4 separate regions of the Homo sapiens genome follow, and all the other regions are linked to region 2. Evidence: fine-mapped expression QTL. A gene starts in region 2. Each other region holds a variant in brackets. All regions are shown on one strand. Distances are from middle to middle.

The links.
Region 1: its variant is fine-mapped to the expression of SPEF2 in monocytes (TOPMed, PIP 0.91).
Region 3: its variant is fine-mapped to the expression of SPEF2 in whole blood (TOPMed, PIP above 0.99). The same link has a PIP of 0.9 or more in cerebellar hemisphere.
Region 4: its variant is fine-mapped to the expression of SPEF2 in whole blood (INTERVAL, PIP above 0.99). The same link has a PIP of 0.9 or more in atrial appendage, esophagus muscle and fibroblasts.

The regions. Positions count from the first base shown.
Region 1 is chr5:35,640,609-35,646,263 of GRCh38, reverse strand. It overlaps SPEF2 (sperm flagellar 2), which reads right to left. Exons shown (of 37, transcript NM_024867.4): 3 at 4,581-4,833; 4 at 1,739-1,909. Among named protein-coding and RNA genes, the nearest start is that of SPEF2, 26 kb to the right of the region's middle. The variant T/C (reference allele first, on the strand shown) is at 2,732.
Region 2 is chr5:35,615,188-35,620,842 of GRCh38, reverse strand. It overlaps SPEF2 (sperm flagellar 2), which reads right to left and starts at 2,980. Exons shown (of 37, transcript NM_024867.4): 1 at 2,788-2,980. The coding sequence starts at 2,845. RefSeq lists an enhancer at 2,130-2,937.
Region 3 is chr5:35,669,334-35,674,988 of GRCh38, reverse strand. SPEF2 (sperm flagellar 2) reads right to left here. Exons shown (of 37, transcript NM_024867.4): 10 at 4,762-4,930. Among named protein-coding and RNA genes, the nearest start is that of SPEF2, 54 kb to the right of the region's middle. The variant T/G (reference allele first, on the strand shown) is at 2,950.
Region 4 is chr5:35,705,682-35,711,336 of GRCh38, reverse strand. SPEF2 (sperm flagellar 2) reads right to left here. Exons shown (of 37, transcript NM_024867.4): 18 at 5,529-5,655; 19 at 2,216-2,389. Among named protein-coding and RNA genes, the nearest start is that of SPEF2, 91 kb to the right of the region's middle. The variant A/C (reference allele first, on the strand shown) is at 3,318.

The sequences.
Region 1 (5,655 bases), 25 kb before region 2:
ATAGTTTCTAGGAGGGCTCCTGCGAAACCCAATAAAAATCACAAACTTCCCCAAAACCCAGTCACACTTAAACAATGAGTTCAGGGGCAACCTCAAAATTGAATTAACAATAAATTATGTGATACAATTATTGGATCATCTCTTCTGTATGTAGGCAGTAGTTATTTTAAGAAGACTATAAGCAGGAGAATGTATTTGAAAAGAAAAAGTGACTGAAAAATCAGATAAAGTATTTTAAAAGTAAATGATTTAAGAGGTAATATGTGAAACTAATCATGACTTTACTACTAATACATTATATTAGAACTAATATGATCATTAGCTCTCATGTCCAAAGATAAAAAATTTCAATTTACCCTTAAAAAGGCATACATTATAGACAATTTTCTTCATTTTCCAAAATATGAATATTTATTTAATTGCAATATGTTTATCTTTTTTTCTTAAGAAGACCAGGAAGACACAGAGTCTTCCTTTTGCCTTATTTGTTCCCTATGATCATTTTGAACATAATTTATTTCAGAATATTTAATGGTATCATATTTCCTTTTTCTCAACATTCTTGGAGACTGTCTGCATTAGGCTTGGCACTAATAGACAGGCTGGTTCCACATAAATTACAGTCACAGCAATTGGTCTCAACTTAAACACTACTTTAAGAGTGCTTTCTCTCTTTATCATGTAACACCAAAGGGGAATATAATCCTTTATTTACCCTCTGGCAAGTCATATAATTACATGACTGCTTTACATTTTATTATATATAAACTCTACTCCAGTTAGTCCACTCTTCTTGAAGCTACAAAAACGTTCAATTCTGAACTCTGAGGCAGGTAGAAGTAAGCATCCCCGTTTTTACAGTTGGGGAAATTGAAGCTGAGAGTTATTTAGAGGCTGGCTCAATGTTAACCAGCTTCCAAGTGATCTTCCAGTTTGTCTGTCATCTTCCCATTCTTCCCTACAAAGAGCTGACTACATTCAGAATATAATTTCTTATCATTGCAAATAAATCCATGAATTTAAAAAGTGATTTTACAGTGCAATGGGAAGAACTACATAATTCTTTTGCCTGTAGTTTACACATTCCATATACCCAGTCACCTGAAATACTCTTAAAAATCTTTAATGATTTCATGTACCATTATTCTCTCACCCACAAAGGCACAGAAGATCATTAAAGAGTTTTAAAGAAATCTGAGAAGGAGCAGAGAGTTAGTCAAAGCAAGAAGCAAGGGCCAGAAAGAAGTTGAGAGTTGTTCAAGGTGATTGAAAAGGTAAGCAAGCAAAGAATTACCTCACATCTCCAAGAACAGAGAAATGGGGCAGGACCGAAGGTTGCAAAAGAGGAGAAAGCGAGAGGACATTGTCTGATCTATCTCCCTCAGTGGTGACAATGGTCATGTGCCTTTGACCAATGGGGTAGCTAATAGCAACCCTCCATCACTAAAGCAGCTGAAACATTGATTTCTACCAGTGAAGGTAATGCAGTTGTCTTGCCACTCCAGAAGATGGCAGTTCTTGTTCTCAGCCACAAGTAGAGGTGAGAGTCAGCAAGAGTCAGGATGGAGAAAAGGAGCAGGGGAGAGAGAGAAAGGGTGAGAGTAGGGCAGGACAAAGTCATGCATCAGGGAAGTGCAACTTGTGCTCCACTACTACTTATGCAATGTGTACTATACGCATAAATCACAAACTGTATACTATGCACTAATGAATTTCTGAAAAAATAGTTCTATAGAACCTTTTCAATATCAAAACATCTTTGCTCTTCCTTGAGTTTTTGAAATCTTTCAAGTTTCTCAAAATGCAAATGGGCAAGATCTTCTTTCACGTGTTTATATTTTTCTTGAAACCTGTATGTAATCCGCATCAGATTGAAATCAGTTTGACGTGGTATCATGTGTCTAAGTCTCTAAATGAAAAAAGCATTTCAAAAGATTTTATTAGAGAATAAAGAGTACATTTTCATTATAAGCACAAATAAAATTTGTCTTCAAAATGAAATTCTTTAAATTACTATTGTTGATAGTTAAGCTAAATTCAAACCCCATTCCAATTACTCATATTCTTAATTGATGTAAGCACAATTATAAAAACATTATCCTTTGTGGTTCTTCTTACAAAATAGCCTCATATATACTTTTATAGTTAAACTTTTTACACTGAGTTAAATTTTCAATAAATGGTATTTATATTCTTGGAAATAAATTTTATTTATTTTTTTTGCAAAAATAATTTCATTAAACCAACTTTAACATATAAGAGATAATATAAGAAGCTAGATTCTTCCCATTGCTTAGCCACTCCTTAGTAAAAAGTGAAGAAACATTAAAACTTCCTAGGTTTGTGTTTCAGCTTTACCACTTACTAGCTGCTTAAAATTGGGCGAGTTACCTAATCCATCCGTGCCTTAGTTTCATCATCTGTAAAATGGGAATAATGAAAGTAACTATATTTTATGGCTGTTGTGAAGATCCAGTGAGATAATATTCATAAAGCACCTGAAACAGGGCTTGGCACATCACTAGGCATGCTGTTTAATAAATTTCAACCATTATTAATATTACCTGCACCTCTTCTCATCCAGTATCAAAGAAGATGGCATCTCTACTTCTTTCCTATGATATCACCTCTTCCACATGAACCATTGATTGCATATTCCTCTTTCCGTCCCCAGAGGGCCTCTTTCCATCTTGTCCTTGTACCATTTTCATCTCTCCTGCCACTGACTCTT[T/C]TTCTCAACTGATAAGTGGCCCCAGTCTCTAGGTCCATAAAACAAGCAATCTCATACTTCACTTGAGCTTTTCTCTCCTACTGTTCTCTTCTTTACCTCCACATTTCTTGAAAGAATAATCTATGTTACCCTCTTCCTCATCTCCAAAGTCCTTCTCAACTCACTGCAATCCATATCACTCTAATGAAACATTTTTCTCTCCCCAATATGTAAGCTCTAAGAGGGTTGGGGCTTTTCCTGTGTATTTGTTGTGCAAGTGCTTGACAAAAAGTAGGAGCCCAATAAATATTTGTTCAGTGAATGAATTATTGACGCTTGAAGTTCACCCATGACCAACATTAAATGAGCTAATAGGCACTTGTTTGTCTTCATCTACACAGCTCTTATAGCACTTGCCACTGTTGACTGCTTTACATTTTATTATATATAAACTCCACTCCAGTTAGTCCACTCTTTTTCTTGAAGCTACAAAAACATCCAATTCTGAACACTGAGGCAGGTAGAAATAAGCATCCCTGTTTTTACAGTTGGGGAAATTGAAGCTGAGAGTTGTTTAGAGGCTGGCTCAATGTTAACCAGCTTGCAAGTGAAGGAGGCCGAATGCAATAATAAATTATTCATATTAAGACTAATCTAATTTCTAGCTCTCAAGGAGCGCTGAGTCCATTCTGCTACCAGACTTACAATGATATCCATGAAGAATGGACAAATATAAACATGGAGATAGCCCTCATATCTATTACGTCATTGCTGCTTCAAAATTTAAATTTAAAAATATAATTCTATCCATTGATATTTACTATTTTGCATCAGTGCAGCACTCATGATTATTCCAGAGGCCTGTAAAAGTTAATGCACTTCATTTACCATAAGGAATTGCATAAAAACTGGAGAGAATTGTCAACTAAAAAGTCATATCAATTAGTCAATAACACATTTAATGAGTACTTACAACATTTGAAGCATTGTACTAGACATATTCATCAAATCTGATGTACTAAAAATCTGGTAAGGTCATATGACAAATAAATAATGACTAGTTAGCCAACAATATCAGTATCAGGACGGTAAAACCAAGAGAGTGAGAATTACTTATGCTCTAGAGTTCCAAAGGAAGAACTGGGACTACCCGTGTGTACTGGGCTGCACGGTAGATGAAGAACAGTTTGGGGAAGAGGAGAGATGAGAAGGGTGAGTTTGGGTTTGAGGGAAGGAAGAGCAGGAATAGACAGTCATATTTAAGGACAGACTGTCAATTAACATAGAAGAAAGAAATACCATGCTGAGGACTAGAAAGAAGTAAAAATAGGTTTCTGAGCAGAAGAACTCAATAAAAGTAAAATTTAGGGAAGATTCATTTAGCAGTTGATTGACTTATCCAGAAGATTGAGAGACATTTTAGCAGGTTGCTGCAGTAGTTGATAAGAAGATCTGAGCAGATATGATGGGGTAGAAACAGGAAGAGAGGAGCAGGCACAAAAAGTATTAGGCCTGTAGTCCCAGCTACTTGGGATGCTGAGGCAGAGGACTGCTTGAGCTCAGGAGTTTGAGACCAGCATGGGCAAAAGAGCAAGGCCCTGTCTCTCTAAAACAACAACAACAAAAAGTACTGGAAACTAGGAAAAGAGTTTGATAAGCTATTGGCAATATGGATAGGATAGAGAGAGACATCAAAAATGGCTAAATAAATTCAAATTATTAATATAAAATAAAACCCAAGTATGGCCAGTAACATACATAAAGGATATATATGCCTAATGAGGCTTCTTTGAGAATTCAATATCATTGTCATTTCTCTTTATCAAATTTTACACTGTGACATGCTTATTATGCTTTTTTATGTACCTACCTCTTGAAAAGTATCACTTTTCATGTTTTGAAGTCTTAAATTTGTCAGACGTTGCATGGTTTGCATCTCCACTCCAGTCAGTCCACTTTTCTTCTTTTTCTGAAGAGCAATGTACAATTGATATAACAGCTTTGTTGCCACCCCAGGCTTTTCTGTGATGATGCCATGGGCCACATTCTGATCAAACTGCACACCCAGAAGGTTAAGTGTTGGCTCCAAGCGAGAAAAATTATTAAGTTTGGCACTTGAAACCCTGGACAGTAAAATATTTTACATAATTAGACATTAGCATTAAATTAAAGACAAACAACAAATATCAGACATATTATCATTATCCAATATTTTGAATTATTTCATGTCCTTTTAGCTGTATCATTCCTCTCTAAAACCACTCTAATGTAACTACATTGAGATTTTTTTATTGACCATGTCTACCTGAACTCTATGCATTCATTTCTTTTAAATGGCTACACTAAAATTTTTCTGCTCTAAATTGACAATAGGATTTCTTCAGAAGTAAATACAGAAGTCACAACACCTAAACTTGATATACTGTTCCTAGTATACTATTTCTCAAGAGATTGCATTCAGGTAGTGGCTCTAAATCTTTTGTTTTTGAATCACAGATACCTTTGAAAATCTGACAGCTATGGAACTTTTTTACAGAAAAGGAAACATACATTTATACATACAGACAAAGCGTGTATAACATCATATAGCATGTTTTTGAGCCTCTTACAGTCTAACCTAAAAGCACCCATCTTCCAAAAAGATGTGGCGCTCAGGAAATATAAGAGTGATTTCTAAATATAAATGAGGAGCCAGCACCATGAGATGGCCAATGTCAACAAAAATAGTGATGCAATATCTTGAATTCATGTTCTGATCATGTGGTGTAACTTACTGTCCTGTTTCCTCTGTGTACTAGTAACTCTTTTAACATAAATATTTAGCAAGATATATTTAGTGTATTATGCGGCATCAATCAAACTTCAAATAAAATATTTTAAATTAATAAAAGAGAAAAAGGCCTTGGAGGAGACGAGAAGAGATAATGCATGCTACAAGAAAACCT
Region 2 (5,655 bases):
ATATTCATAAGTGTGTGTTTCCTAATTGGTACAAATATATAATTATACTAGTCACAATAAGCTCTAACTTTTGGTTTTTACTTGACAAAAATACATAAATATCCTTTAAGCCAAAAGTTATAGCAGCTAACTAATTCTTTGTAATAACTGCATAACAATTCATAGTATGAATAAAGCACCATGTATCCAAGCATTACACTTTTGAAGGATACTCAGATTGTTTCCAATTTTTATTTTTGCCCCTGTAATTCATGTAGCAATAAACGTCTTTGTTCAAATATCCTTATATATTGGTGCTTTTATTTTTATTTGATAGATGCTGAGAAGTAGGATTTAGCATTTATGTCCAAAGTGCTATTTTAAATGCTTTACATTTAATATCCCATTTAATCTTGATACAACCAGATGAGGTATCATTATTATTGCTGTTTTTAAGTATGATGAAATTTAGGTAAATAACTTGTCCAAAAGATTTCCAAGCAGTCTAACCTCCAAGTTCTTGCTTTTTACACTTCCCTTACCCAGAAATTGCCTGATTACTTTCCCCAGAGGTTGCACCCACTCACAGTCCTTCCATGATAGATTCTACAAACCATCCAAAGCCTTCCATTGTGCACCACACAACAGTTTATCTAATGATGGGGCAGCAGCAGCAGGAAATGTGCTTCCTTGAGTGCACAAATCCTAGCTTGTTGGCTTACAAACACAGTTAAGTGTGTTCCCAAAGACCTTTTACAATGTGGAATCTGGTTACCTCCTCAAGGACTCTCTCGCTCTATCTCTCTTATAGTAGTTGAGATTAAAAAATTAATACGTTTTGCTAGTGAATGGAAAGCAGAATACTCCATTAGAACGGGGCATCTCTGCTAGCTTCCAGATCTACACTTCAGGAGCACAGACGCCAGGAATTTTCTATCCATAGCCTAAATGTTGTTAAAATTCTTACTTAGTCTTCAGCCCTTTTATGTTTATCCTCCACCTCTCAAAACCTAAATTCCCAAAACTAATTAAAATTATAATGGCATCTACTGTTTTTATTTTATGTATCTTTATTAATTTCATTTATTTCTCCTAAAAGTATTTCAAAATGTTGCAATAGAGTCCTGGGGACTTCAGCAAAGGGTGTTTTTTGTTTGTTTGTTTGTTTTGTTTTTTGTTTGTTTTTTGAGACAGAGTCTTTCTGTGTTGCCCAGACTGGAGTGCAGTGGCGCGATCTCGGCTCACTGCAATCTCTGCCTCCTGGGTTCAAGCGATTCTCCTGCCTCAGCCTCCCAAGTAGCTGGGACTACAGGCACCCGCCACGACGTCCGGCTAATGTATTTTTAGTAGAGACAGGATTTCACTATGTTGGCCAGGCTGGTCTCGAACTCCTGACCTCATGATCTGCCCACCTCGGCCTCCCAAAGGGCTGGCATTACAGGCGTGAGCCACCGCACCCGGCCCGGGTGTGGTTTTTACTAATAAAATAAATGAACTAAATTAAACTAAGCAATATGTAACTGCTTTTCTTTTAGAAGAGTACAACTTAAGGGCATGATATTTTATTTTGGCTCCTATGGTGAGACAGGAATAAGAAACAATAAATGCTAAATATTGTCCTCAGTCCATCATATTTTAGCAAATAAACAGTTGGAGACACAATGGGATAATCGTAGAATACCAGGAAAGAATTTATTGCAGTTCACAGGGAGTGTGTAGATGGTTATTTGACAAAGAAAGAGTCTGAGGTTTATGCCTCAAGAAATGCAACAGGAGATGCTCCGTGCTAAAGATCCTCATGCTGAGAGTATTAATAACTACTTTGCACCCACAGAAACACTACCGATCTAGCAACTTCTGTAGATAAGCTAAGGTTGAACTGGCACCACTGCCTCTCTGGTAGCAAGCTGGTGTTAAGCAAGTTCTTCTGGGAAAATGGACTGAAATGACTTGCCCTGAAAACCTCTTCCCTTAAGCAAAAAAAGAAAAAAAGACAAACAAAACCAACTGAAAAATGAACTCCTGAAGAATTACAGGGCAGTCAAGGAAGCTGCCAGCATGTAAAATTGTCTCTGTGGTTGTCAGACTTGGAAACTTTGGGTGGCAACTGCATGGTTAGGATAAAATTAGGTTGGTGAATAAGGTCAGCTTTGGGCAAGAGCCAATAGTGACCAGAAATAGCTAGTTTGTGATTTGGGGCTTAAAATTTACTAAAATTTGTAAATGTTAACATATTCTACATTAACTTATTTTTCACCCACCCTCCCCTGCTGGTCAGTTAAGTATGGAAAGCATTATTAGGTCCATTTTATAGAGAAGGAAACACATTCAGAGAAGGTATTGTAACTTGTCCAGTGGCTTCATATTTCATCGACTAGCCACCACACCATGCTTCTGCTTCTGGTGATGTGAAGGAGGCATCGTTGGGGTCAGACTACAAAGTCCAGCAAAGTTCCCTCTCCACAGAAGCAAAGGAGACCTTCCTAAACCCTCTGATTGCCTAGAACCACATCACAAAGTCAGAATGCCTGCGGGTTGGGCCCACCGTGACAAGGGTAACTCGAGAGCGGCAGAGTGGGGACGTGACAAGGCCTTGCCCTGGCTGGGGTGAGCTGTAGGGAGGTGGCGGGACGGACCTGGGGCACCGCCGAGCCGAGTTGCTCACTGTGGGATGCTGCCGGCTACGCAGGTGCCCCACCTGTGCAGCTCGCGCCCTGCCCGCCACCTTCCCTGAGTGCGCTGCGCTGCGCTGCAGGCTCTGCGCCCCGCTAGCCCCTCAGACGCTCGCCCCTGGCCGTGGTCACTCACTCACGGTCCGGGACACCTTCAACTCCTTGTTGAGCCACTGGCACAGGATCTCCGACATGGTTCAGCCGGTGCCTCAGACCGCAGGCGGGGGCTTAGAAACTCGCCAGGAACCAAGCCTGCCAGCCCGCGTCCTCCTGTAGCCAAGGGCAACCCTTTGCTATGGAAGCGTATCCAGGCTGGAACTAGGCGAAAGGCCTTAGAGAAGAGGGGACGCTAGGGCTCAGCCGCAGAGGACAGAAAATCGTGTTTCGCCACCTGCTGGCGGGTAAGACCTGAGCGTGCGCCAGCGCAGGAGGAAGCCGTTGGGGGCCTGTGAGAGAAGTTAGGGAGCAGTGGGTGTGGGGAGAGGCGAGGCGGGAACACTTAGGGACACAGCAGGAGCTTCTTAGGTGAGCAGAAAGTAAAACCAGAGTCTCCGCAGGGCTCCGTGGCTCACGCAAATAATCCTACCACTTTGTGGAGGGGGTGGCGCTCGACTGAGCCTGGGAGTTCAAGACCAGCCTGGGCAAGGTAGCAGAAACCGTTTTTTTTTCTGTAAGAAATTAGGCGGCCGTGGTGGCGTGCGCCTGTGGTCCCACCAGCTCAGGATGCTGACGTGGAAGGATCAACCCAGGAGGCGGAGTTTACAGTGAACCGAGATCGAGCCACTGCACTCCAGCCTGGGCAACAAAATGAGACTCTGTCTCAAAAAAGAAGAAGAAAGAAGAAAGAATAACAAGAAGGAGAAGGAGAGGGAGAGGAAGAGGAGGAGGAGAAGAGGAAGAACAGGAGGAAAAGAAGAAAGAGAAGGAGAAGAAGGAGAACAAGGAGAAGGAGGAGAACAAGGAGAGATCAAAGAAGAGGAAGAAGAAGAAAAAAGAAGAGGAAGAAAAAGAAGAAGGGTATTTGGGGTATCCATCACCTTGAGTATTTATCATTTATATACGTTGGTAACATTTCAAATCTTCTCTTCTAGCTATTTTGAAATATACAATGTATCATTGCTAACTATAGTCACCCCAGTTGCTAGCTAACATTAGACCCTATTTCTTCCATCTAACTATAAGTTTGTACCCATTCACCAACCTCTCTTCATTTCCCCTTCCCACCCTCACATCCTTTCCAGTCTCTGGTACTCATAATTTTGTTCTCTATCTCCAGGGGATCAACTTTTTTAGCTACCACATATGAGTAAAACATGCAGTATTTGTCTTTCTGTTGCCTGGCCTATTTCATTGAACATAATGGCCTCCAGTTCATCCATGTTGCTGCAAATGACCTGTTTTCATTCTTTTCCATGGACAAATGGTATTCCGTTATGTATATATACCATTCTTTCTTTTTCCATTTGTTCGCTGATGGACACTTAGATTTATTCCATATCTTGGCTATTTTGAATAGTTCTGTGATAAACATGTGAGTGCAGGTATCCCTTTGATATACTGACTTCTTTTCCTTTGGATAGATACACTGTAGTGGAACTGCTGGATTTTATGGCAGTTCTGTTTTTAGTTTTTTGAGAAACCTCCATACTGCCTTCCATAGTGGTCATACTAATTTACATCCCCACCAACAGTATGAGTTCCCTTTTCTCCACATCTTCTCCAGCATCTGTTGTTTTTTGTCTTTTTAATAATAACCATTCTAACTGGGGTAAGATGGTATTTTATTGTGGTTTTGATATGCATTTGATAATTAGAGATGATGAATTTTTTCATATACCTGTTGGCCATTTGTACCTCTTCTTTTGAGAAATGTCTATCCGTGTCCTTTGCACACTTTTTAGTGGGATTGTTTGTTTTTTTAGTGTTGAGTTGTTTGAGTTTCTTGTATGTTGTGGATATGAGTCCCTTGTCAGATTAATAGTTTGCAAATATTTTCTTCCATTCAATGGGTTGTCTCTTCACTCCGTTGATTGTTTCATGTATTGTACAGAAGCTTTTTAGTTTAATATAGCCCCCAGTTGTCTATTTTTGTTTTAGTTGTCTGTGCTTTTGAGGTCTTATTCATAACATTTTTGCCTAGGCCAATGTCCTGAAGTGTTTTCCCTATGTTTTCTTCTAGTAGTTTTATAGGTTTAGGTCTAACATTTAAGTCTTTAATCCATCTTGAGTTGATATTTGTGTATGTGGTGAGAAATACTGTTCAGCTCTACTCTTCTGCATATGGATAGCCAACTTATCCAGCACCATTTATTGAAGAGAGGGTTCTTTCAACATAGTTCTTGGTGCCTCTGTTGAAAATCAGTTGGCTATAAATATGTGGATTTATTTCTGGGTTCTCTGTTCTGTTACATTGGTCTATGAGTCTATTTTTATACCACTACCAAGAAGTTTTGATTACTATAACCTTGTAATATAATTTGAAGTCAGATATTGTGCTGTTTCCAGCTTATGCTGTATTAATTACTATAGCCTTGTAATATACTTTAAAGTCAGATACTGTGCTGTTTCCAGCCTTGTTCTTTATGCTTAGGATTGCTTTGGCTATATGGACTCTTTATTGGTTCCATATGAATTTTAGGATTGTTTTTTCTATTTCTGTGAAAATGATCTTGGTATTTTTATAGGAATTGAATCGAATCTATAGATTGTCTTAGGCAATATGATCATTTTAATGATATTCATTCTTCCAATTCATGAACATGGGGTGTCTTTCTATTTGTTTGTGTCCTCTTCAATTTCTGTCATCAGTGTTTTATAATTTTTCTTGTAGGGTCTTTCACTGTCTTGGTTAAATGTATTCCTAGGTGTATATTTTTATTGTACCAATTGGAAATGAAATTGCTTTATTTATTTATTTGTTTATTCATTCATTGGTAGAGATGAGTTTTCTCTATGTTGCACAGGCTAGTCTTGAACTCCTGGGCTCAAGCAATCCTCTGCCTTG
Region 3 (5,655 bases), 54 kb before region 2:
CAGTAGAAGCATCTTCATAGTCAAAAGACAAGAAAATTAAGACTTCTTGGCAAGAAACAGAAGAGGCCATAAAACAAGCAACTTCATGTGAAATTAAAAGTTCCTATACTTAATTAGTAAGTTTCCATATTGTGACATTTTGTAAGTATCCTGAATAAATGCATATATTATGGGCTGAATGTTTGTGTCTCCCCCAGATTCATATGTTGAAGCCCTAACCTCCAATGTGATGGTACTTGGAGGCTAGGCCTTTGGAATGTAATCAGGTTTAGATGAGGTCATGAGGGAGGGGCTCCCATGATGAGATTAGTTTTCGTAAACCATCATTCTCAGCAAACTATCGCAAGGATAAAAAACCAAACACCACATGTTCTCACTCATAGGTGGGAATTGAACAATGAGAACACATGGACAAAGGAAGGGGAACATCACACACGAGGGCCTGTTTTGGGGTCGGGGGAGGGGGGAGGGAGAGCATTAGGAGATATACCTAATGTTAAATGACGAGTTAATGGGTACAGCACACCAACATGGCACATGTATACATATGTAACTAACATGCACATTGTGCACATGCACCCTAAAACTTAAAATATAATAATAATAATAATAAAAAGAATTTGGAAACACCAAAAAAAAAAAAAAAAAAAAGAAGACGAAAAGAGAAGAGCTCACTCTGTTTCTCTCTGCCCTGTGAGAACACAGCAGGAAGGCAGTCTTCTGTGAGCCAGGAAGAAAGATCTCACTGGGGAGTCAAACTGGCTAACACCTTAACCTTGGGCTTCTCAGTCTCCAGAACTATGAAAAATAAATTGCTGTTGTTTAAGCCACCCAGTCTATAGTGTATTATTATAGCAGCCTGAGCTGATCAATGCAATGTATATGTTTTAAATGTAAAAAAGTGATCGATTCACATGCCCTTAACATTCATCTACTAAAATCTATCACTGTGCTTGTGTCAATTATCCAGGGATGTCTTTGGGCCACACAATTCAGATGAGACAGGAAAACAGAGAACTCCATGGCTCATTTAGTCCCATATTTCTATTCTTTGGTGGAAAAAGACCTGGTGGTAATAAAGGTCATTGTAAAAAAACTGGGGGATAGGTGTCCATACATGTGCTGTAGTGACAGGCGTACACATGTTAAACCATAACATATACAACCACATCTTAAAGTCTGGTTGACGGAAAATCATAAGCCAAAAATAATGTTAATAAAAATGTACATTATAACACACACTGTAGGGTTAATCCAATAACCACAACAAACTCACCTGATCATGAACTTAAACACTAATTTGCCATTAAAGGCAAAAAATAGCAGCAATTAAAAATCATGAACAACTTAAGACAACATGGATGATGTGCTGGAAATGAAATATCCTTCCCCCAAATTATAGAAATTCCAAGTATAACTTGGTTATGGGCATGCACAGTAGAGCTCTGAAAATGGTTGAGTGCTTTGTGGCAGGGACTTCTTAGAAAAATCCAAATCTTCAGGAAACCATAGCCATGAGCTAATTTTAGTTTATGAACACTAAATTTTAGTAACTCTTAAACTCATTCAACTAGTAATTGCTAGTAAGCAGCTTATATAAAAGTGAAACGCTATGAATTGCAACTCATTTGCTAGTAAGACCCACAGAAAGGATTTGCATTAGGGGGAGTTTGAGGTTCACTGGCAGGAGTCCACTGCATGATTGAGAACCACTAGCTGCTGTGTGGGGCTGTGCTGCCAGCTGCACTACAGGAACCAGGCCTCCTGGCTTAGACTGCTACCCATGGTCCATTGGGCTTTAAGGGCCCTTCCTCACTTTCTACTAAATAACTCAATGTTGTTATGCTGTGGTAGTTGCCTAGGAACCCCAGAGAGGTCTGACTGCTCCATGATGCTGTTCTTGCCTCTTTCCTGGGAGAGAGAAATGTTATTTCTAGCCACTGGGGTAGAGCTCCCTCACATTCAGTCATTCTCACATAAATAGAGTGTGATGATTTAGGAAATAAAGTTAAGACATGAGTCAAATTTTTGGCAGCTACATATGACATGTACATAAGCAAATATCTGTTTTAATTGCAATTTCTAGGTACAATATTTAAAAATTTTAAGCATAATAGCTTATTTGAACAGAACACGGGCTTCTAAAAGCACAAACTCAAAACTGGGAACTGTCAGTTCTTTAAAGGTATAGGGTATGGACATCAATTAAGTATGCTAAGAATATAAACTTTTTGAAGATTAATTTCTGAATAATACATTTGCTTGAACATAATGTTCATTATAATGTTATTGAACATTATATATAATGAACATTATTATGTTCAAGCAAATGTATTACACTATTTGTTCAAGCAAATGTATTATACTATTATACTATCATTCTTTATTTTTAGATCTTTGGTCTCTTCAAGAAATTGTCCTAAATGTTCCCACATACAAGCAAAAAATAAATGTTTCAACTTGTAAAATATATTATCTGGCTTAAATAGTCTATCACAACAGGCAGCGGAACAATGCATCCTGGCTTATCTAAAAGAAACAGTTGTCCACATTTGTCATTATTAAATTTGTTCAGGAGTTTTAATGCAAATGTATTACTTAGAAATTAATACATTTGCTTGAACATAATAATGTTCATTATATATAATGTTCAATAACATTATAATGAACATTATGTTCAATAACATTATAATGAATTATATATAATGTTCAATAACATTATAATGAACATTATGTTCAATAACATTATAATGAACATTATGTTCAAGCAAATGTATTAATTTCTGAGTAATATATTTGCATTAAAACTCCTGAACAAATTTAATAATGACAAACGTGGACAACTGTTTCTTTTAGATAAGCCAGGATGCATTGTTCCGCTGCCTCTTGTGATAGACTATTTAAGCCAGATAATATATTTTACAAGTTGAAACATTTATTTTTTACTTG[T/G]ATGTAGGAACATTTAGGACAAGTTCTTGAAGAGACCAAAGATCTAAAAATAAAGAATGATAGTATAATAGTTTACAGTATATCCTAAAACCTGTATATGGCATATTTTCCATTATGGTGTCGAAGGGAGCTTGTGAAAACATATTATAAATCCTAAGGTAATTTTCATTTCTAGAAAAACAGCAAAGTCAATACACAAAATAAAGTACATTGCTAGACGCTCACAAACTCCTAACAAAAGTTTACAATTTTCTGCAAAAGAAATGCATCATCTGCTTCAGGATGTGGGTAAGACAAGCATGTTCCTGTGGTAACCATTTCTCATACAAGGAAAATAGCTAAAGAGACAAAAATCTTTGCTAAGCTGCAGCCTACTAGGTCTCCTGATTTGTAAGAGCAACAAGAATAGAGATTGAGCTGTTTAGCAAGTAATTTAGAAATAAACATTCGATGAACCAGTAAAGTCTGTCAAATAAAATGACTTTTAATTTACAATGGAAAGAAATACCTTAACACAGGTTGATACTGTCAAAGCATTTTCTTACATGGCATTATACTTTAGGTGGATGTAATAGGTCTAGTATATTTTACAACCGTACAAAACAAACATCCACATATATCTTTTAAGGTTCTAGTCAATCCTTAATAATAATTCTCTTAGTGCTACAAATACAGATTCATTTAATTAAAATATAGTATACATTTAATTTCTCATAATCTCATATTTTTCCTTATCTTTTAACCACAAGGTTATCTTCTTGTAATATTTACTTGTTAGTGTTATTTTGCACTTTTCTTTGTTCATTGTAATTCATTCATTTTATTCACCCTTTGTCCCACAAACCTTTGTTGAGTATGTACTATCAGTGAATAATTAGGTCAAATAATCTTTTCATAGATTTTTTTCATGTTGCACTTACTGACCTTCCGGGACTCATTTTGTAATTTTTCTAATAAAAAGCCTCACTCCTCATTCCATTGCTGTTGATCCACTCAAAATTTCTATCCAAAAGCTATGATTGTTACACCTTTACTTCTAAGGGTGAGATGGAGTGGGATGGGGAGAGTAGGATGGTGAGGAAAGAAATGGATATGTATTATATGCATCCAACATGAAGTGCACTCAGCTAAGTGTTTAACTCATGTTATTTTAAATGAAGTAGGTATAGTAGCATTCCCTTTCCATTAATTGAAAAATGGAAATCTATTAGCCCTTAATGAACTGGTCACCTAAGGTCACACAGTTAGTAGTTGGCAATTTCAGTAATGTAGCTCTAGTCTGTCTAATCTCAAAGGCTTTACAACAGTTCTTCTAAAAATCACAGTTGGCACCCGATACTTTTTATTTCAATCTTTGAATAAAAGATTGTTTGAATCTATGCTATTCATAAAACCCAGACTTCCTCCTCTTTCATTTTGCCTGTAAAAAAAGTCTATTATTTAGATTGATTACAAAAGAAATACTTTTTAACAATGGTTTTTGAAGCAAAAGTACACAGCCCATACAAAGAAAAATGCTAATAAATAAATTAAAGCATTTTAAAAATTCTGAAATCTGTCTACCCAGACAATTACTATGCTTGATGTTTTTTCAGACCACTCCCCTAAGATTACTAGGAACAATAGATAATAGCTTATGTATAGTTTAAGCATCTAAAAAGTAGTACAAACATACAAATTAAAACAAGGGAAAATGCAAACAAAACATGTCTATTTTTATTAGTAGAAATGAAATAAGGAATATCACAAAATTAATGTTAAAGAAAAAGGATTTATTATGTAGCATTCTAATTATTTCATATCAGTAGGTACCTTATATTCTTCATAATCATTGGTATCTAGCAAGTCCCTTTTCTCCAGTTCTGTAAGTTGTTCTCTTGAGGGGTTAGCAGGTAGTGTCTTAACAGAGGCTTGTTCATATATGGGTTTTGCATTAAAAAATAGTTCCTTCCAATCATGCATCAACTTATACGGAATCAGACTATCGCACAAAAAAAAGGTAGAGATGAATCAATGGTTAGTCAAATATAGATTTTAAACATTGGTATTTTTATTATATTTATGTAATTAGCTCACTTTCATCAGACAGAAATAATTACTGAAAAATGATCTTAAAGGTTACCATATGTGCAATGACAATAAGACTAATATATATGAGATTTTTCTGTTACAAATAATTTACAAAATGTAAACCTACTTTTCTCTTAAAGGGGCCTTGAAAAGCACTCAGTTTGTTCGTTTTGCACAGGAGGACACTGATACTAGAGCATTTAAATAATTTCCTAAGGTTGCATAGTAAGCTGATATCAGAGCTGAGAATTAAGGAACCTAAGTGTTCTGACTGTACTCAATATTTTTAGATATATTGTTCTGCTATGAAACAGTCAATAAAAAAGTGAAAAGAGCCAGTGGCATAAAGTAACAATCATTCTTCAAACCCACTAAGTTCCGGACATTTTACTAGCTATTAGAAATATAATAGCAAGTGGAATACCTGGACTTAAATAGCAGACTCTGGGAAAGAAGGGGAAAAAATAATTGCGTACATAAATGAAAGTTTTGAATAAGAATTATACAATGGGAAAGCACAACAGTATGACTCAACTTAACTTGTTGGTTCCAGGAAGGTCTCTTTAAAGAAATGACTGCTAAGCTGAGTCCTGAGGAATGCTTAGGAGACAACAAGGACAGAGTGATGGGAAAATG
Region 4 (5,655 bases), 90 kb before region 2:
ATAACAAAATAACAATTTTTTAACAAAATTTTAACAAAATAACAAAATTTTTTAACAAAATAACAAAATAGGATTCAATGTACTATGCCTACTCTAGCCCTTTTTTAAAATTTCATTTGGTTTTTTAGTGAATAATTCCTCTTTTCATCTCAACTTCTGCTGAAGATTGTAATTAGATGTTTGAGTAGGGCATGTTCAGAAGCCTCAGGCTTTCAGTTCTAAAAATGTTCCATTTTGGAAAATTTGTAAATTATTTACACAAAACATTTTAAAAACCTGTGATAAATGTTCCTCTCTCAAATTGCCTAACCAAGCTTCCCTGAGCTGCAGGGGCAGTGCTGTCTGCTCTCCTGCCCTATCAATGTCCATCACAGTAAGGTTGGGTGGCAGCAATTAAGACTCTCGAGATTAACCTTTCTAAACATTCTTAAATATCAGGCACTAGCCTTGACCTTGGTGGGGAAAAAAAGACAAGTACAACCACTCTTTAAAGCAACAATAGATTTATTATTTCTTCAATGCACAGTATTCAAGAATATAATTATAAAATAGCAAACAAACTTCAGAAACTTAAAGACTGAGCTGGTCTGATCAGAAACACTAGAGTCTGGTTTCAGGAAATGGCTCAAATACATAGATACTCTTGACTGGAGCAAGCTGAGGAGGAGCTTTAACCTAGAGTCATAGCTATAGGTTAAAGGACGATATTCGATAATTCTAGGCTCACCTGACCCACTGTGAAAACTGTCTTCCTCAGTTATTTTTCTTTTCTTTTTTTTGGAGGTAGAGTTTCACTCTATCCCCCAGGCTAGAGTGCAGTGGGGCAATCTCGGCTCACTGCAACCTCCGCCTCTCAGGTTCAAGCAATTCTCCTGCCTCAGCCTCCCAAGCAGCTGGGATTACAGGTGCCTGCCACCACGCCCAGCTAATTTTTGTATTTTTGGTAGAGATGGGTTTTGCCCTGTTGGCCAGCGGGGTCTCGAACTCCTGATTTCTGGTGATCTGCCCACCTCAGCCTCCCAAAGTGCTGGGATTACAGGGATGAGCCACCATGCTTGGCCTGTCTTCCCCAGTTCTAAAAAGCATTTTAAATATTTCCATTTTCCTCCAGACCTCTGAATTGTTTTTTAATTTCCTAATGAGACAGCGGGAAAAGGGTGTATGTTTAATTCATGTCTTTGTGTTTTATTGTTGACATGATAAAAACATTTTTTAGGATGTGTGTATTTTGCCTGTAGTTAATTTCTAATTTCCTGGAGCAGAATGGTCTTTAATATATCATAATATATCTTACTAAAGTCTTCATATGTCTTTGTTTAATATGAATAAGTTTAATTTTAAAAATTAAGACCTATCTCAAATCTCCGTGAGGCAGAAAGACTATAGAGTTTAGAAATGTGGTCATGACACAGTATCAAAGATACTTAGGTAGACATGGTGTAACTGCACAGTCAGCCATTTATAAAGCTGAAACTAGAAACCAGAGCCTCATTTGTTTTATATACACACACAAATGGATACTGACACTCTACCAATATCATGCATTACAACAATTAAGCACTTCACTTTTGTCATTATATTCATTGTCTGCCACTTAATGCTAGACTTATGGTCCATAGCGGTTAAGGATCTAGAACAAACTTAAACTAAAAGTGTTCTCTATCTAGGCTCTTTATCTCTGTGTCCATAAATATATGTTTACTGAGATGGCAGGAGCTTGTTTCTATACTTTTATAATCACATAGTCCTGAAGATTTACAATTACATATAAATTCTAGTTCTAATGGTTGCTGTTAATTTGTTCCCTTATTCTGGTGGAAAACCAGCTATACTCATTCTTATTTTATTAAGATGTTCTTACTCATTACATAAATGTAACTCTATAGTTCAGCACACAGACGTGTATCCTCTTGATCTGCCTGAAGTTACCTGTTACTCTGTGCCTTTTCCTCTTCTCGTCTGTGGTCTTACTCTAATCAGTAGACCTAGGTGTGATGACTCCATGTCTCCTCCTACATGGCAAAGAAGTTGGGCTTTGTAACAACTACGCTTTTAGCTACTCCGAGGGCTTTTCCACTTCCATCTGAGTGTAAAGCCTTGTTTCATATGATTGAAGTTGCCCAAAGTCTGAATGTAGATAGACTATAATTTATAATTCTTTACTGAGTAAAAATAAGAAACTGAAAACAGGATTATAAATCATTCTGTCAATCACCTGATTGAGGTTTTCCTTTTGCAGTAGGAGTTTTTGAAGCCACATGGCTTTGATGAATTTCCTTCTCTTTTTCTGGTTCAGGAGGAGGAGCAGGAGGAGGTGTAGGAAGTGGAAGCTCAGCCAGGGAAGCTGCTGCTTTTTTCTCAGCTTCCTTTTCTTCTAATTTCTTCTCAACTTCAAAAGGATGATAAGAATTGACCTTCATTAGAGACTCTAGAAATCTACTATTTCACTTGAACTAAGAGAAATCTAAATTAATATAAAACAATCTTACGTATTTAAAGCTAATTCATGCTTTAGGGCTTTCCCTTAAATCATCTAGTCCTTAAAGCTAAGATTTCAAGTCTTCTCTCCCTTGTCAGAAATATGGTTGCCCTTGCCTTTTGATGGCAGTGGTGGTAATGTTGATGGGTAGTGGTGGTGATGGTGATGGAGGTAGAGGTGGTGATGGTGCTGGTGGTAGTGGTGGTGGAGGTGCTGGTAGAGGTGATGGTGGTGGAGGTAGAGGTGGTGAAGTCTGTGGTGGGGATGGTGGTAGTGATGGTGGTGGTGTGGTAGTGGTGATGGTAGGAGTGGTGATGGTGGTGGTTGGCATGGGGGTGATGAGGAATATATGTGTATTTGTGTGTACGGAGCAGGTATAAGGGGTTAGCAAGTGGTGTCAAATGTAAAAGTGATAATCTAGAAGTAGCTAATAAAGATGAGGAGAAAAATAAAAGATTGTTTGAAAACGTCCAGTGGGAAAGCAAAGTGAACAAGTGTAAAAAGACGGTAAAGGGCAATGTAATACAAGAGGTGGGGTGAGGAGGAAATGGAAGGGGAAAGAAATGTGTATCACTAACTTTAAAAAGTGAATACAAAGCACTTAGAATACTGCACAGTACATACATCTTCAATTAAGCCTTAGCAATTCATTCATTCCTGCAACAACCATTTATTGAACCTGAATTATGCCTTGAAGAAAAGGAAGGATGACAAGAATAAAGTAAAACTACTACTATTTCTAATGATAATAATTATAATAATATTGCAAACAATAGTTCTGATTGCTGGAGATACAACAGTAAAACAAAACAGAAAAATCAATGGCCTTATGAAGCTT[A/C]CGTTCTAGTGGTAGGAAACAAACCATAAATATGATGAATAAGTTAATTTATACAAGAGTTAAGATGGTGATAAGTGCTATGGAAAAAAAATAGAACAGAGTAAGGGAGATCAAAGTGTTGTGGGCAGCTTCTTAAGTTTTAGATAGACTGCCAGGGTGAGTATGCCCAACCATAAGGTGACATCTGAGCAAAGACATGAAGCAAGCCAGGGAGTGAGCCTTGTGTATTTCTGGTGAAAGAGTGTTCCAGTCAGGGGAGATGGTTAGCCCAGATGCCTGGAGGGATGGAGCATGCCTGACTGGAGTCTTTCTAGGCTCCCATCATTGTGATGACCCTTTGCCTTGCATGATGCAGTTTCACCTTTCCTGGCACACCCTCCCTGACTGCCCAGTCTTTCCATCCCTTCACACTGCAGAGGCCCACAGCTCTACTCAATGTACCACTGGCGACGATTGCCTATGTTCTTGCATGACTATTTCTCTTTACATGTGCTTACTCCACCCTTAGATTACTCTTTTCAATTCAGCAAGCTAGGAGGCTTCATTCTATTAGATGTTCTTTTGAAGTGGAAATTAGGGGTTTTAGTTCTGACTTTTAAAGTTATTCATAATTATTGCTTTAAACATCCAAGAATTAAGACAAGTAGAAAAGGGAATTGCCTGTTAAGTCTCTTTAAGTCCTATCTCCTTCCCCATCATCAAGTATATATATGCTGCCAGACTCTTCTGTGCAGATGTATTTAATACATAATTATGTACACTTTCCTTAAAAGAGACTATTTCATATGTAACCTGCTTTTCCCTACTTAACAGTATATTGTGGTCAGAATATAGAAGTACCACATTCTTTTAGTTTTTTAACTTAGTCGGAAAGTTTAATACAGAGCACTGGGCTAGGTTAATGTTTATTGTTTTAATTATTAAACATTTGTTAATTACCTGTTTGAAATATAAATCTTAAGTGATAACTGAGTCTATTAATGTAGTCAGTGAATATTAGAATGCAAACTCTTTAGGAAAATGTTGAAGTTGAGTCTAATAGTTGGCAAAAACAAACTGATTCTAACCCGTAGCTTCAAGCCTTCATGAGTTAGAATTGGTTTGTTTTTGCTTCCCAACCAAGACTCTGTAAGATTGCTATTCTGTCAAATGACATGTTAAGCCTCTTAAAATAGTATATGATTATTTTTTGTTTGAAAGGTTCATGCTGGTAGTTTTTGGAGTAGGCATTTAGATGTAGGAGTTTGTCTTTCTAAGTATGAGCTCCTGGATTTCCATGGTGATTGTGGTTTATGTCTATGGGCAATTTTAATGTTAGTTAACTGTTACATTATGGGAGTTAGGTCACAAATTTAGCGACAGGAGACAGTATGCTATCAAGGCAACTTTAGAATCCTTTTGACACTATTAACTTTGACCATTTTTTATTATACTAAGAAACAGTAGTTGCCAATATAATTTGGGGTAATTGATAAACAAAAAAGAAAGATTTATTTTTCAAATCTTGTCTCAAGGCAAAATCCCAATGGAAATATGATATTGGACTGAAGTTAAAATCTCTTTCAATAAAAAGCTTCAATAATAGTATAAAAAGTTAGTGGGCAATTATCATTGGTTGAATGAAATAGGAAGGCGATCTGTGCAGTTTTATGTGGGTAAGATAAAACATGAAAGCAAGTTAATATATAATTAATAATCAATTTAATAATAATAAATAAACTTATAACAAAATAGGTGGATGTGAGAAAAAATTGCCTAGTGTGTCCATCCTAAAAGAATTCACATGGTTTCTTTATAATGCTAAAGCTAACAAAGTAAAACCTTTACCTTTATCTACAATATCTCTAATGTTCATTATTTTTTACTTAAAAATATCTAATTAACAAATAAAGATTACAAATATCCAGAGAATAAAATGTGAATTAACATTTAAATTTAACTCTGCTGGGTTTTTTTCTTGTTTTTTTTTTATGTGAAAACAATGCTTTCAGAGAGATGGTCTCTTTTTGATTAAAATAAGAGAGAGAAAAAATCTTTTATTCGGAAACATATACAACAGAAAGCTAAAGCCAGAGGCAGAATATATTTGTCGATAGTATAAATCCAAAGATAAGAAAGAACTTTTCAATCACATCTTCATTTCCTACCAAACTCATTAAAAACCACACATTTTAGTTGCCTAAACTCAAAACTATAAACAAATGTAAATACCTTTATTCTTTTTTTTTGCTATTTCAGTCGTAAGAATTTCTTTTACTTTTTCACATAAAGATTCCTTATCTATTTCAGCATTGATTTTTATCAAAATATTTTCTGGCTCTGAAAACCATTGCTCCAA